Linked DNA regions of Homo sapiens: region 2 is linked to region 1. A link means that fine-mapping ties the variant in region 1 to the expression of a gene that starts in the linked region. Tissue or cell type: cerebellar hemisphere. Region 1 holds a variant in brackets; the other region holds the start of a gene. All regions are shown on one strand. Distances are between the middles of the regions.

Region 1 (8,109 bases):
TGCTAACCCTGTCCTCCAAAAAGGGTATAAATACCTTTGTGGTCATCTTCCCAATAACCCATAACCCCTTCTAATCTTGAGCATCATACAAATGTCACTTGAGAGGCATTACAGAATACCTGACCACACTCCTCAAAACTGTCAAGGAAAGCCTGAGAAACTATCATAGCCAAGAGGAGCCTAAGGAGACATGACATAAATGTAATGTGGCATCCTGGATGCAATTCTGGAGCAGAAACGGGACAATGGATAAAAACTAAGGAAATCCGAATCAAGTATGGGCTTTAGGAAATAACATACCAATATTTGTTCATTAATTGTGACAAATGTATCATAATGTAAATTACTAATAATAGAGGAAAGTAGGTGTTGGGTATATGGGAACTTTGTGCTGTCTTCACAATTCAGTAAATGTAAAACTGTTCTAATATAAATTTTTTTTTTTTTTGAGATGGAGTCTCTCGCTCTGTCATCCAGGCTGGAGTGCAGTGGCACGATCTCAGCTCACTGCAGCCTCCGCCTCCCAGGTTCAAGTGATTCTCTTGCCTCAGCCTCCCAAGTAGCTGGGACTACAGGCATGTGCCACCAGGCCTGGCTAATTTTTGTATTTTTAATGGAGACGGAGTTTCACCATGTTGGCCAGGATGGTCTCAATCTCCTGACCTCGTGATCCACCTGCCTCAGCCTCCCAAAGTGCTGGGATTACAGGCGTGAGCCACCATGCCCCGCCAAAAGTGCATTTTTTTTTTTTTTTAGTAAAAGGCTATTAAGTCCTATATGACACATCCATTTTGGGGTGATATTTTTTCCTCTTTTCTCTGAGTCACACTCCCTCTTTAATATCCTGTAACTTAAATACTGAGCTATATGGCTAGCCACTATTAACACATCTTCTATTAAAGATAGGGAATGGAAGTGGGGGAGTAAAGAAAATTAATACCAAAAAAATGCTGTATTCATATTAAAGTAAGAAAGAAATACTTACAACCACTACTGTCATCATTTCTGTAACTGGTCCAATGGTCCTTGCTAGTATTTATAACTTCCGTCTTCTGTTAGCCAGTCCATATCGCCTTTGCCCTTAGTAAACAACTCAGCTGATGTGCTTCCTTGCCTCATGGGGTGATCCTGCCTATTTCTGTTTCAGTTATCTTTTGCTGTGTAACAAACCCACCCCAAACGTTAGTGGCTTTAAGGCAACATTATTTTTTTTATTTCTCATGATTCTGGAGTCAGGCATTTAGATGGTATTTAGCTCTTGTCCAGAGCTGCTGAAGGACAGAAGTATACTCGGTTTGGACCCACAGGCCCAGTCTTGGCTTCTGGAAAAAACTACACCAACAATACATTTGGCCCCTTCACCACAAGGTTTGTTTCCTCCGTGGATCTGGCACTAAGAAATTATATCTATTCGTAACTCTTGCCTGATGAGTAACTTGGATCCTAAATTCTCCCTGCCCTTAATGGCTGTGTGGTGTTTGAGAAATTGCTTTAACTTTGGGGTCTTGGATTCCTCATCTATTAAGTGGGAGCATTGAAGTTCTACTAGATGACTTTAAGACATATTTTTTACTCCTGAAATCTGTTATTTAAGAGGGGCATTTATGGAGTGTGGATTATGGAAAAACCAGCATAAGTGGGAGTCAAAACTTTAAGAATTTATTTCAGCCTAAAATGCCTATTTTTGAAGGGAACCTAATCAAAACTTTTTAAAAATAGTTTTTAATTATAGGTTTGAAACTTTGTGTTATTTGTAATGCCTTTTTAGAAGCCTGAAAATAACATTTCTCTCTGTACCAACTTTGTGCTTTTCCATTTGGTAAACACTGATTTTATTTCTCTCTGTCCCTGTAGGAGTAAACCAAGCCAATTCAGCACTTCCTGTTTACTTCCTTGTCATATGTACCATAGATGGTGACAGACCTGCTCTCAAAACAAGCTTCCTTCGTTTAATTCTGCATTTTCTGCTTAGGCAACCACCCTATCAATATACTTGAACAATGAAACAATTTGGCTACGGAAGCACTGTCTCTGAATTCCTCCTTCAACTTGTCAGTGGAAAGGAAAGTCCCTTGGTGGAATGGTAGGAATAGTTTTAAGCGGGGTATCACACAGTGCCTTACAGTGGAGAATATCAAAGCGTTTTCAGCTCTTCAATCTTCGTATGCATGACATGGGTGAACACAAGACTAATAAACAACTTGATTTCCTTAGGAGATTCTCAGTGCTCTATCTGTTTTTTAAGTAAGAAGATTGAGTTTCATGTATATTGAGTGACTAAAGTGTAAGCTTAGAAATATTTTATGTCTCCATCATAGTTTATTCTGTTCAGCATAAATCATCAGAGCCAACCATAACTTAACCATTTACTAGAGCTTTTTCAGAGTCAGTTGTATTACAAGCATGTCAGACACACCTTCCTACAAGTCCCTCAAGGTCAATAGTTGAGAAATTCTGCGTTTTCCTTCCCTTCCCCACTCAACACTTATGGAAATATATGCTAATTGGAACAGAAGCTGCCTACCAAACTAACAGGGTTAGACCACTCTTAACACAAGATTAATGAGAAAGAAGTTTAAGGAAAAAATAACATTTCTCAAGCAGTAAGAAAGTACATGCCAAGTAAAAGCCAACAGTCTGCATCAGTCGGATACCAAACTCTGCTTTCCCTTGACTTTACTTAAAGGAGTTAAAGACAGGGAATCCTGTATGTCCAGCCTTGCTCCAGTCACTGTTGCCAGCCCTTTGGCTCAGTGTGGCTGGCTTCTCACCTTCCTTGGGGCCTCAGCTCAGCAGCCACCATTGTAGAAAACAAGACCACAGACTCAAGGGTTAGAATGAGACTCTATACATTGTTTACTAAGGTGACATGCCAGAAGGAATGATGAGGCACAGACATACTGCATGTGGCCCGCTGCATTCATGACAGGCCTTTGTAGGTGTGTGATTTATATTCATAAAGGGGGGTTCGGAGACAATGGATGTTTAAAGTCACTGATATTGGCAAGAAATTAAGTTTGTGAATCACTCTGCGCCGTTGATGAATGACTGAACTGTGAGTTAGCAGACATCAAGAGCTGTCAGTTAGGAGTGATACTAATGTTCTTTTGAAATAGGTTTAGACAACAGTATTTGCTTAGAAGGAGAAAAGCCTAAAGATCTTATCAATTTGCAGAAACTGTAATTGGCATACTACGTGACATATTTACATTATTTGGCAAGGGCCGGTGAGGGCGGGGGGTGATTTCTCTTAGAATTCCAACCCTTTCAGGATCCAAAGGCAGCCTTCACCTGTGGCACATGCTTAGCTCTTTATAAGCACCCTAAATTTTTCCAAATAAATTTTACACATTTAAAAAGTGATGATCTTTCACACCTAGTGCCCAGATCTTAGTTTCTAAATATCATTCCCCACTGGTATTCAGGGTTCCTTGGAGAAATGCCTGATCCCAGAACCAGGGCAGGGAAAGATGCCTGGAAAAATGAGCCTTGAATATTTTATTGCATAAGAAAATAAGGAACTGGTCAAAGAACCATGGGGAGAGGTCAAAAATGGAGCTGGAAGAGGCTCTTACTGGCCAAATCTGGGACAATTTGAGCATCAAAATAAATGATAGTACTAGTTTGTCACCCATCGAATAAATATTCATGAGTCCATGCAGTATAAATAAGTAAACAGAGGAGAAAGTGAAAAGTCTTCTTTGCAGAAGAATGCCAACTAATAAATAAGAAGGAATAGTAGCATTAAAAGATCATCCATGGTAGAGGAAGACTGATAAGAAGTGGTTTATGTAGTCTCAGATTGTCTCCCCACAAATTACTGATTAATTAAAAAGGAAAAAATAGTAAAAAAGAAATCAGATGTTCTTTAAATTATTTATTGTAAGTACTGTTAATTAAAATGTTATGTTTGTGTTCAAAAATAGATAAGTACTCTTGCTTAAATTTTGTGTTTCTGCAGGCCATGCCACTAAATAAGAAATGCAAACAGGGAGAAATTCATTTATAATAGTTGAAAGAGTATCTCCAATGATGGCAAATCCTTTGATAAAATATATTTTGGTCAAATGCCTAAGACAGCTCCTTTTGTTCAGCCTCAATCTGGAAATTGTTCTTCCCTCCAAAAGCCAGAACAGGCTGACACTGTAGCACATCAGAGGCATATGGGAGCTCTCTGCTCCAAGCACTGCAATTTAAGGGAGATGGGGAGCTACAACATCATGTGGGCAAAGAGGTGGCCATTCTAGGATGGCACTGGAACTCCGTCTGTCCCTTGCCTAGTGAGGACCCTGGCCTTTATTTCCCCCTTTTGTTGTCTATATAAAACCAGAAACACTGTTTTCAGTTCCTGTGATGGTTAGGTATCTGAAGCAGGCAGGACACCAACGTCCAGACAGGGCAGACTGGGTAAACAGGACTCACAGATAATGCTGGCTCAGCTGGGCGCCCAGCCACCTGGTTATGTGATGAACTGCACTAGCATTCCAGGGAGACC[G/A]GGCAGGCACCTCGAAGACTACATTCAGACGCTAAAGTGCACACCCACAAAACAGCCATCTCAGACTTCTAATCTTACTTTATGACCAAACTGTAATTACATTACACCAATTACTTGAATATTACATTTTTATTACTGTTATGTCATTATGTCTACTAGGAAAAAAATATGCCTACTTTAACCAATAAAATTCTTAATGACTCATGTAAGCTGTGTCTACATGAAACCCCTGACTTAAACATTTTGGTCAAAATAATTTTTAGAGCCTGGGAGAAAAAGAGAGTTAATCTCCATCTATGTGATTACCCCCAAAGCAAGAAAACTTCCATTTGTAGATGTACGGCTAGAAGTTAAAAAAGTTCCAGCCAAAGCTAATCAGAAAGTTACGATGACTATATTTAAGAGCTATATTTATACAGCCATCAATTCTGTATCGTCTGTTGATCAGTTACAACTATTAATAAAAAAGGAGAGCTGGGAACTCAGGAAACATCCATGTAGCCATCCTCCAAATGCATGGAGGCACGTTTACATTTCCAAAATGTCAAGTAGGCCCAGCTGTAAAAAGATTCTTTAAAGGCCATCTAGGCCAGTTTTTTTGGGAGCCAGTGATTTAATTGGGACTCACTAGGGACAGTCCCCCAAATAAAGTTATTAATGTGTAGAACTTCTGTTTTAAAATCATTATAATTACATTTTACTTCATTTACCTCTTTTAAGGTAGCATCTCATTTTCTGTAGGCCAGTGACCTGTAGAGCTTATCTCACTGAGAAATTCCAGGCAGTCAGACTCGGTGCATTTTCTCAGCAGAGGGACCTCTGACCTTAACCACCTCTCAGCTCGCCCCAAACCTATGTGTCCCTTTCCCAAGCCATGCAGACTCAGACAAGCATAGGACGCTACCTGTCTCCAAAATAATTCTCTACTTCGGGAGCCAGAATTCAGACCCTTGAATTTTGAGAATTTACCATATGCACTTAAGTGAGTCAGAATATCCAAATTTAATCACTGTTGAAAACTTTTTTCACAAACATTTTACATATGCCTTTTCCTCCCAATTTTTTATGCATTAAACACTTTCCTACAAGAAGATGAAGTGGGAACAGGTTTTTCTTCCCCAGGCTTGGTATTTGCTTTATTTAAAAAAAAAAATCCTTTTGACAATATATGTACTCTGTATTACTGTGTAAAATCTCATGCCTAATTCTTAAGTTATGTGCATCTGCTGGACATAAACACTGTTAAACATTCATGACTGCCTACAAATGTGAAAAGTATTACCAGGTCTATTTTTAACATTATTTTGGCAAGACTGTTGCTGTGGAAAAAAAAAATCCTATAGAATCTTAATGAGAAAACTGAATGATTCTTTGAAATGTGGTTGTGATTCCCTAACTTATTAAGTGATGATGTCACTGATGCCGAGAAGCAAGAAACAGTGGACTCACTCACTTGCCAGCATGCTCTGGAGATACACCAGAAGGGAAATAAAACTCATCTTGAGTACGGTTTGCGCTGAGCTGCACCTTCCCCCACAGCTCGGAAGGTCACACGTGTCCCTGCACAGGACGTGTCTCACACACTTGGTCTGTCATTTCTGTGAACCTACGTCATAGAGGGTGCACTGATTGCTTTTGTTTTTATGGAACTTGATCTGTTTGCTGGCCTTTTTTCTGTTTATTACCCACATTTGTCTTACAGAAAAGAACCACCTTGTTTCACCTGTTGGAGAAAGACGGGGGTGTCCTCCAGCTCACCTGAGTCCCCTCAGTCACTTAATCAGCAAGTGGCAAGAAGTTCAAAGAAGTCTGTCAGGACAGGAGCACAGGTCTAATGAAGGAGGTTGTTCCTCATGCCTTCTTACTCCTCAACTCCCTTCAGACTTCCTGGCCACTCGACTTGAATCCCACTTGTCCTAAGTGGGCACAGGCCCTGTAAGAGCAAGGTGTGAGGCTGTTTGGTTCTAGGCAGCAGCAAACAGGACCTGGCAGAGTTTTACAGACTGTGCCCTACACAAAGAAACCAGGCCAGGAAGGCATTGATGGAGACTAACTTTCATTTTGGCCTTCACTTGCCAAGCCTTGCATCCTGGCACAGGAGTTGTGTCAGCCAGGAGCAAGGTCCACTCAGAGGGAGCGTTGTTTTATCATTCCCCTACCTAGAGGAGGCACTTTTTCGTAATTCTTCTGCCTCATGAGGATCCATTTGGCTTGTTTGTACAAAGTCACTGTGTGTGCTTGCAGAAGCCCTGGGGCTGGCCCTGGAGGAATCAGGACTTGCCATACTGAAGGGGCAGATTCTGCACCTTAAATGCTGGCTGGGTCAGCAGTGAATATAAATGAGGTCATTGCTTCTATGGAAAAAGTGCTACAGAATAAGGTCTTTCATCCTAGACAGCAAGTCTGGAACCTTTCAGAGTTCCAGAATCAGCCACAGCTGATTGAAAATTGAGGAACGATTTTCAGCCAGAAACCTGCAGAACCCGTATCTAGAGAGAGAGCTATGTGTTCCATCCAAAGTAGGGGCTGGTTTAGTTCTGCACTGGAGGAAATGCAGCCTGAGGGTGGCCTAGCTGGTCTTAAATCTGCATAAAATCATGGAATCACTGAAGTTTAGAGCAGAAAGAAGTCTTGGGTCCTCTAAGATCCATTCACAACTTTCCGAGATGAGCACAGGAACATGAAGTGCTGGTCCCCACCACCCTCAAAGGTGGTATCTTCTCAGCCAAGGGAGCCTGCCGCTCCCTCCACATCCATTCTTCTCCCATCCTGATGGCTCTAGATATTTTGTGGCGAGTATTCTGATTTCTGGGCATGGACCCACTGGTGCTCCACTTTCTTCCACAAGTTCTTTGTGAAATACCTACCTGCCACTGATCACTCAGTGACGTCTACCATTTGCACAGAATGACCAGTGGCTCAGATGCTCTTCACTGGTCATCCATGATTGCCACAGACTTCCAGAGGAACTCAGGGCCATGAACCTGCAGTCTTAGTCCAGTCCCTGCCCCAGTCCACTGGAATGATGCAAGGACCCATCCTGTCACCCCCTCCACCACTGCCAGGACACTCTTGTTTCCTACCCCTTTATCCTCTGGCTATGATGCAGCTTCACCTTGTTGGGGGAGGTCCCCAGGAGCCAGCCTCCTGACCACTGCCTCTGCAGAGACTCCTGCCATGCCCCACTCAGCAGTGCAGACTTGTGCATGGACACCCCACACCAGAGCTCTGTTTATCACACACTCGGGACAGCAATTTGGACTAGAGCTCGTCCTACACTCCCTTTATCTACCCTAACTCCAGAAGCATACATTTTTTGACTACTTCGTCCCACCCAGCAGCCTCCACTGAAGTCCCAGCATGTCTCAGAGCTGAGGCTATGCTGGAGATGACACATGACATTTCAGTCCATTCTTGGAAGTTTCTTTGTCTTTGCAAGAAGGATGTTAATTTCGCAGGTTAATTTGGTAAACCTGTAAGTCAAGAAGGGGGACTTTGACTTCAAATTATTACATTTACAATGCTGCGTATTATTTTAGCAGGTTCCACAGAGATACTTCACTCATTGTTACAATTGTGTTTTTATAAACTTCAAAGAAACATGGACTTTCCTT
Region 2 (8,091 bases), 570 kb before region 1:
TTTCCATGGTGACAACTTAAGCATTAAAAATAGAAGGCAAATATAGCAAAGGATGAAATAATTGATAAATAGAAAATAAAAAGTCCCCACAAACATCCTAGCAAGTAAGAGTTATGAATCTCAAACAACAAAGAATTTCCAAGTCACCTGAACTGTCACTGTAGCATCCACATGAGAAGAAACCACTTCTGGCCGGGTGCGGTGGCTGACACCTGTAATCCCAGCACTTTGGGAGGCCGAGGCAGGCAGATCACAAGGTCAGGAGTTTGAGACCAGCCTGACCAACATGGTGAAACCCCGTCTCTATTAAAAATACAAAAATTACCCGGGCGTGGTGGCACACGCCTGTAATCCCAGCTACTCAGGAGGCTGAGGCAGAAGAATCGCTTGAATTGGGGAAGAGGAAGTTGCAGTGAGCCGAGATCGGGCCACTGCACTCCAGCCTGGGTGACAGAGCGAGACTCTGTCTCAAAAAATAATAATAAAAAGAAACCACTTCCATGGAATCAGAGAGATGGTTCCATATTAGCCATGACTTCTGCTGCTCTTTTGAGAATGTGGGCTTACTACCTAATCATTTTAAGATGCCCATGGGCACTTTTACTTAGATACATGCACTTTCTCTTTGCACTAGTGAGTCTACGTGAATATTACATGCCAGAGGAACGTTAAAGTCTACGCTAACAATGCTTCATTTTTCTTTAACAATTTTGTCCAGGTCATGGAGACATTTTTGTGGAGTGATAAATTAACTTGGTCTCCTGATGTGTTTTCCCCACATGCCTTGGAAAATCACTTGTTTTTCTGAGAGGTGGTAGTCATCAAAGCCTTAACTTCAGCAACAGCTTCGCTGTTTTAGCTTTGTTATAATTAAGATACCCTAGTACCATTGATAGTTTAGGATATTTGATATGAATGTAATGCAAAAATATTTTTGGCCCTTTGTATATAGCAATGGTCTCAAACTATGAGCAAAATTATGGCTAAATCAGATTTTCAAAAATGGATTTTAAGAAATTCCAGGAGGTAGGAACCTGGTTAACTCATGTGACTTTAAAAATCAGATCTCTGCCAACAGCCCAATTCAGTTTCCTAAGAATAAATTTTTAAACTTCCTGTATCAATGCCTTAACTCAGTTTCCCTTCTCCATGTGTCACTCTCATTAACTTTTGTTGTGCGTGATTTTTTTTTTTCTTTTTTTGACGGAGTCTAGTTCTGTTGCCAGGCTGGAGAGCAGCGGCGTGATCTCGGCTCCCTGCAACCTCCGCCTCCCAGGTTCAAGCGATTCTCCTGCCTCAGCCTCCCGAGTAGCTGGGACTACAGGCACGTGCCACCACGCCCGGATACTTTTTTGTATTTTTAGTAGAGACGGGGTTTCATCATGTTGGCCAGGATGGTTTCGATCTCCTGACCTTGTGATCTGCCCGTCTCGGCCTCCCAAAGTGCTGGGATTACAGGCGTGAGCCACCGCGCCTGGCCTGTGTGTGATTTTATGCAGGCTGGACACCAGTATCCTAGAATAAGATGATCTGGATTCTATCCTGATAAACTGGATCAAACAGGTACTCATCTGATGCAGGTGAAACTCCAGTGCAGGAACTTCTATGATAACATTAACTGAACATAATTTTAATTGAAATGATCTACTTTTATGTTTCTTTAGATGTGAACATTAATTTTTCTCTTAATCTTCTGTTAACTAATTTCTTGGTAATGTACTCAAAAGAGCTTTCAACCAGTCTTCCCATGTAAGAAGTTATCACCATACTCACTCTGTTACTTTCCCTTATACTGCACACTTTGCTCAGCAATGAATTGATCCCTGATTTACACATCAAGCTGAGCTCTCACATCCTAAATATATCTATTCTTTTGGAATTTTAGGTATTTGGCAAATATTGAAGCGTTGGGGAGATTAAAGAGAATCAAACACAACACTAGCAGACTCAACTACAATCCACAGAGGAAATAACCAAATAAGTTGCTATTTTAAACAATTTAAGCAAATAGAAGGAAGGGATTTCAGAACTCACAGTATCTATAGGCAAGAAAATAACTGAAGCAGTGATGCTTAAAAAGACTTGGTGAGGGTTAATACTTGAATCCCTATAAAATACAGTATTTTATAGTATTTGACAACACAGGTGTGAAGGTGAGCATGGATAACCAGTTTTCTTCTCTAAGCAGGCAATAAGAATGTTAAATATAAATAAGACTTCATATAATATAAAGAGTGAAAGACTGAAAGCATTGTCTTACGACTACTGTATTATTTAAAGAACTACATCTATATCAATTAAATGTGGCAGGACAGAATGTACAGTACAATACTGGGGGTGCAAGATTTTAAAATGAGGAACAGGCCAAAATCTAAACACAGAATCGTCCAAAAAAAAAAAAAAGCCTTCAAGTAGAAAAAGTTTTCAATAACAAAACATGGTAGTTAAACGCCTGCGTCTAGTAACATGAGTTGGGGAAAAAACATTAATAGCAGATTAATGAAACAGATTCTGTGCGAGGTCAGGGTAGGGAGTGATGGCGCGCGGAAGCGGCGTAAGAGCTGGTTTCGCCGTCCCAGAAAGGGTTCCACATCCACACGCCTGTACTGCGGCCCTGCGGGGAGCGTTCAGACCCCTCCGTTTCCCTTCACCATTGTAAACGCGCAATCCCATTAAGATCCCGTTCACTCCAATTCCTGGAAAGAAGCTTAGAACGGTGAATCTCTTCCTCGGAGTTGAAAATCAACTTCCAGTGCCGGTCACCCAATCCTTCAAAAATCCTAGCCCTCTCGGGCCCAATTCCTAAAGAATTCAAGCCTGCACCCTGTACACCCTGACCGATCTCAGCTCGTCCCCACTCCGCTCCCAGCGTCCCCAGCTCTAAACGCCGCCGCGTGGCTCAGCGCTGCCCAAGCCGGGCCCTGAAGGCCGCGCACAACGCCCCGCCCCCGGCGAGCGTGGCGGAAGTAGCTCGCTCGGGCTGGGAGAGCGCGCGCCACCTGGCCAAGCGCGCATGCGCCCGCACTGCCAGTGCGGGGGGCGTCCGTATCGCTTACTCCTCAGTCTCCGCAACCCCCGCCCCACCGAGAGTCGGGCTCACGCCATCTTGTACCCCCCCCATCGCCCCGTCACACAGCCGAGTCACCTTTTCCCTTTCTACACTCCACACTCTCAGTCCCCCACCCCGCCCCTTTCCAAGCGTGTCCCGGGCCGCAGCAGCAGAAACCGCACCATCTCCACCCCCACATTCTCCTCGCGGGAAGCGCAGCAGTGCCTCCAAGGGTTCTTAAAGCAGAGGTTGTAGGGCTTGCGGGGGGCGGTGCGGGGATTCGGGCGGGGGAGACGTCAGAGAGCCGGGAGGGACGCAGAGCGGAGATCCCAGCGTCGCTGGGCCCCCGCGCCGGCCACGCCCTGGCCCCGGCTCGAGGGCGGCTGCCTGGGTCTTCGTGGTCTACGCCGGAGTGTTGAAGGGAGGGCGGCTGTGGGAGGCGCTGGCCGGGCGCAGCGCCCTGGTTCCGCTGCCGAGCGTGGAGTTGCCTCTCGACTCCTCCCTTTTGGCGGGTGGGCGTGGGGTGAGGGGGGCTGGGCTGTGCTGAGAAGCGGGGTGCGCGGGTCGTCTAGGTAGTGTGGGGGCTGCCGGAGGAATCATTAAAGAGGGAAATTGTTGCTTTATGGCACGGCGAGAGAAGAGTTAGGTAGTTAGTGGGAGTGTAGCATCCAGAAAGAGGAAAAGATCCGCTGTGTTCTCTGTGGGGTGAGCTCACGTCTGTGACCCCTGGGGAAATTATTTAGCTTGTCTTTGCCTTGTTTTGGTCTGTAAAATGGCGATCTTATAGCCTATTTCAGAATTGTGAGGATTATATGAGAAAATACACGTTAAACGCTTAGAACAGCGCCAGGTGCTGCTCAGTACATATTAGCTCTGCTTTTGCTCTCCACGTTTTAGGAGTTCAGAATGACTGTGACCTTATTTTCTCAGAGAATCAGGACACTTGGTCTCACACGTGAGAGTGAAGTTATGAAGACAGTGATATGTAATATTTGACACTCAGACGATCCTGGACGTAGTATTACTGTACACGTGGATAAATTAGCATTTCTCCAAGAGGCTAATAGAAATGTTAAGTTATTTCGGTAGAAAGAAATGTGTGTGTATATATATGTATATACATATGTGTGTATATAAGTATATGTATGTGTATATATGTATGTATGTATTTGGAAGGAGAGGACCTGGGGTCTTAGTATATGTGAAGGGCAGACTCTGGAAGAGGAATTAAATTCGCCCTGCAAAGATTTACTTGAAGGACAAAACTTGGGGAATTTCTGGTGAATGTTTCAAAGAGGCTGAATTTGCCTATGAGAAACAGTTCGTGAGAGTACTTTGCAAGAATGGAATGCTCTTCATTGTGCTATGGAAAGTTTCTTATCTCAGGATATTCGGGACGTTGGAGCGAAGTATGCCTAAGTCTAGGGCTGCACTTTTCACTAGCAGTTTCTGCCTTGATGGAGATGTTCCATAATCTGTGCCTTTAGGCACTAGTGGTAGCCTAGGCACAGTGGCTCTTCAGCACTTGAAATGTGATAAGTGTCACTGAGGAACTTAATTTTTAATTTTATTCATAAATTAATAAATTGATTTACGTTTAAATACCCACATGTGGCTAGTGGTAGCTACTGCATTGGACAGCACAGGGCTACAATTTAGATTTTGAGAGTCCTTCCGAGTCTTGATATGGTTGAGTTTTAAATCAGATAAGCCAGCTCTTTGGAACATTTATTGCCATAGGGAATTGTAATTATATTCAAATAATGCCTTTCATTCAAATACTGCAGTTCAGACCATGGGTCTGTTAGTACTTATTTACATCTTGACAAATTAAAGCAAAACGTTGTCTCCTAGGTTGTACAGCTAATGCCAGATTCAGAGAGCTATGACAGTATTAACTGGAGTTTTCTTTAAACATTATTGTACTATTTTGTGATTGTCGGTTTCTGCTATCTTTTACCACTTTGGTTGGTTTTTCAGTGAGAAGTTTCCAGCTCTTATTCAAGTTTTTTTCTTTTTTAACCTTTTGTGTAATAAAGCGATTTGAAAAATTGTAACTCTTGAGCATTAGGACATTTTAGAACTAGTTTTATGGTTATCCAAATCTTTTGGAGAGATAAGTGAAATTAGGTAATAGATGTTTCACAAAATTACTTTACTTGAAATATGTGCATCTGTTTTTTTTTTTTAAAGCAAGTGTATATAAAGTCAAATTTGAAAATAAAACTAAAAGAACAAATAAAAAACCTTTATAGGTAGCGGTAGCACCCTTAACCTTGGCCTGATGTCTGTAAAATGGTGCCCTTGGGCCAGGCACGTTGGCTCATGCTTGTAATCCCAGCACTTTGGGAGGCTGAGGCCAGAGGATCTCTTGAACCTAGGAGTTCAAGGCTGCAGTGAATCATGGTCAGGCCAGGCTTCCAGCCTGGGCTGCAGAGGGAGACCTTGTCTCTTTAAAAAAAAAAATGATGCTCTTGGTCTTAAGGCTGAAGATAATTGTTAGATCTGGAGCAATAACTTAAAGCTCACGAGTTAAATCAGATGGAGAGAATAGCTCATAATATACAAATCAGAATGGGGTGCTTTTATGGGTGACTATAGTATCTTAATTTTTCTGAGACAGTCGTAGTATAAAGCCTGATTGTTCCAGCACAATTATTTTATTTAATAGAACCCCTTTCACTATCAAAATGTTCGAATTGGGACCACATCATAATGTCACCCTACTGTTAGCCTTGTTGGGACTTGTAATATATAGTTTTAGGATGATTAACCACATTGCAATATCAGAAATACTTTATTATTTTTGAGATGGAGTTTCACTCTTGTTGCCCAGATTGGAGTACAATGGTGCGATCTCAGCTCACTGCAACCTCCCCCTCCTGGGTTCAAGCGATTCTCCTGCCTCAGCCTCCCGAGTAGCTGGGATTACAGGCACATGCCAGCATGCCTGGCTAATTTTTGTATTTTTTGTAGAGACAGAGTTTCACTATGTTGGCCAGGCTGGTTTTGAACTCTTGATCTCAAGTGCTCCACCCGCCTCAGCCTCCCAAAGTTCTGGGATTACAGGTGTGAGCCACCGTGCCCGGCCAGAAATATACTTTAAAACAGTGACAAAATTACTGTTTTTGTGTCTAAATAATAAATAAGATACCTGGAATAAGGCCAGCAAGTGACTTTCCCATTTAAGCCACTGATAATTTTAAAATTTTGCTTTGAATATAAACCTTTAGCAGCTTGAGTTTTGGTTCCCTCTGGAAGAAAATCATCTTTTGGTGGGGGTGACTGCATGGTAGTCTATGTCAGTCAAATCAGGTGATTGAGTATTTGTGTTGAAATAACACTGATTTTATTTTATGGTGAGGTTGAATAGTGAAATCCGTCAGAAATCTGATTATGTATTAGAATGTTAAAGAAGGGTTTTGCTTACAGTTTACTTAATGAAAAATAATTCAGCCATATGCATTATTATATTAAGTTTATACTGAAGTGGGTAAAATATTTTATTGAGGCTCTAACACTTGATTTGAGTTCTCGCTCTGCTGCTTCCTAACCATGTGATTTGGGACAAATTATTTAATCTTCCTAAGAATACTGGGTTCCTCATTTATAAAATGAAGATGGTAATGGCATCTGCTTCTAGGTTCATAAGAGGTTAATTTAAATAACTCATGTGATGGGTTGTGTGCAGTTCAGTAACTGTTAGCTGCTGTAGCCTTAAGTTTATTGGATAATCTAGAAGTGATAATAATGTTCTGAGATGTTATGTGGGTTGGTGAACAGAGCACTAAGACCCAATTCTGTAAACCTAGCTTTTGCCCTTTTCTGGCACATTCTTTTGTCATTTCAGTTAAGGTATTTAACTTATTAATATCAGAGCCTCAATTTCCTTATCAGTAAAATGGAATTAGTACCCATCCTCATCCCGCTTTCTCATAGGACTGTTGGTGGCATCAAATGAGAATTACATTTAAAAATTATCGTCTTACTTTACAAACATTTTTATATTGAATTGGTTTTGTCTCATCTTGTCTACCTTCAGCCTCCACTAAAGAGTGACCTGCAAAAATTGTTGTGTAAATTTTGTGTAACAGCATGGATAGTGTATAATAGGCACTATTACTGAAGACAGTTCTCTTTTACAAATAATATTGTAAGTCACAGGCTGGGTGTGGTGGCTCACACCTGTAATCCCAGCACTTTGGGAGGCTGAGATGGGTGGATCACTTGATGTCAGGAGTTGGAGACCAGACTGGCCAACATGGCGAAACCCCGTCTCTACTAAAATTACAAAAAAATTAGCCGGGCATGGTGGTGCATGCCTGTAGTCCCAGGTACTCAGGAGGCTGAGGCAGGAGAATCGCTTGAACCCGGGAGGCGGAGGTTGCAGTGAGCCGAGATCGTGCACTGCACTCCAGCCTGGGCGACAGAGCAATACTCTGTCTCAAAAACCACACACACACACACACAAATAATATTTTAAGTCACAGTAATGGTGCTTTTTTGATCTGGTCACAATATATTTTCTACGGAAAACAACCCCATACTACTGCTAAGGGAGAACCAACATTTTCTTGGGCACTTGATGTGTTCCTTCCGTTGTATCTCATTTATCCAAACATATTCCCACCTAATAGGTTATACTAATGAGGCTCTTACTTTCTAGAATTGGTCTGTGAGGCTTTTTTGTACTGTAGTTCTCCCTCTGAAAATACCTGGCCCATAGTTAATGGGTAGTGAAGGTTAAATAAGATAATGAACATGAAAATCGTGGCCGGCTCTGTGACTTCATGCCTGTAATACCAGCACTTTGGGAGGCCAAGACAGGCCCGGGTTGCTTGAGCCTAAGAGTGATGGGCAATATAGTGAGACCTGGTCTCTAGAAAAAATTTAAAACAAAAATTAGCTGGGCCGGGTGCGGTGACTCACAACTGTAATCCCAGCACTTTGGGAGGCCGAGGCAGGTGGATCGCCTGAGGTCAGGAGTTTGAGACCAGCCTGGCCAACATGGTGAAACTCTGTCTACTAAAAATACAAAAATT

What was found. PIP is the estimated chance that this variant, and not a neighbour inherited with it, causes the effect.
Region 2: it holds the start of SUPT3H, and the variant in region 1 is fine-mapped to the expression of SUPT3H in cerebellar hemisphere (GTEx, PIP 0.97). The same link has a PIP of 0.9 or more in caudate.

Annotation. Positions count from the first base shown.
Region 1 is chr6:44,803,247-44,811,355 of GRCh38, reverse strand. All of the region lies in intron 2 of LOC101929770 (a long non-coding RNA gene), which reads right to left. It also overlaps a transcript of SUPT3H not described here. Among named protein-coding and RNA genes, the nearest start is that of MIR4642, 370 kb to the right of the region's middle. The variant G/A (reference allele first, on the strand shown) is at 4,496.
Region 2 is chr6:45,372,974-45,381,064 of GRCh38, reverse strand. SUPT3H (SPT3 homolog, SAGA and STAGA complex component) reads left to right here and starts at 3,131. Exons shown (of 11, transcript NM_003599.4): 1 at 3,131-3,297. All of the region lies in intron 2 of RUNX2 (RUNX family transcription factor 2), which reads right to left. RefSeq lists silencers at 2,840-2,889, 3,210-3,489 and an enhancer at 2,656-3,199.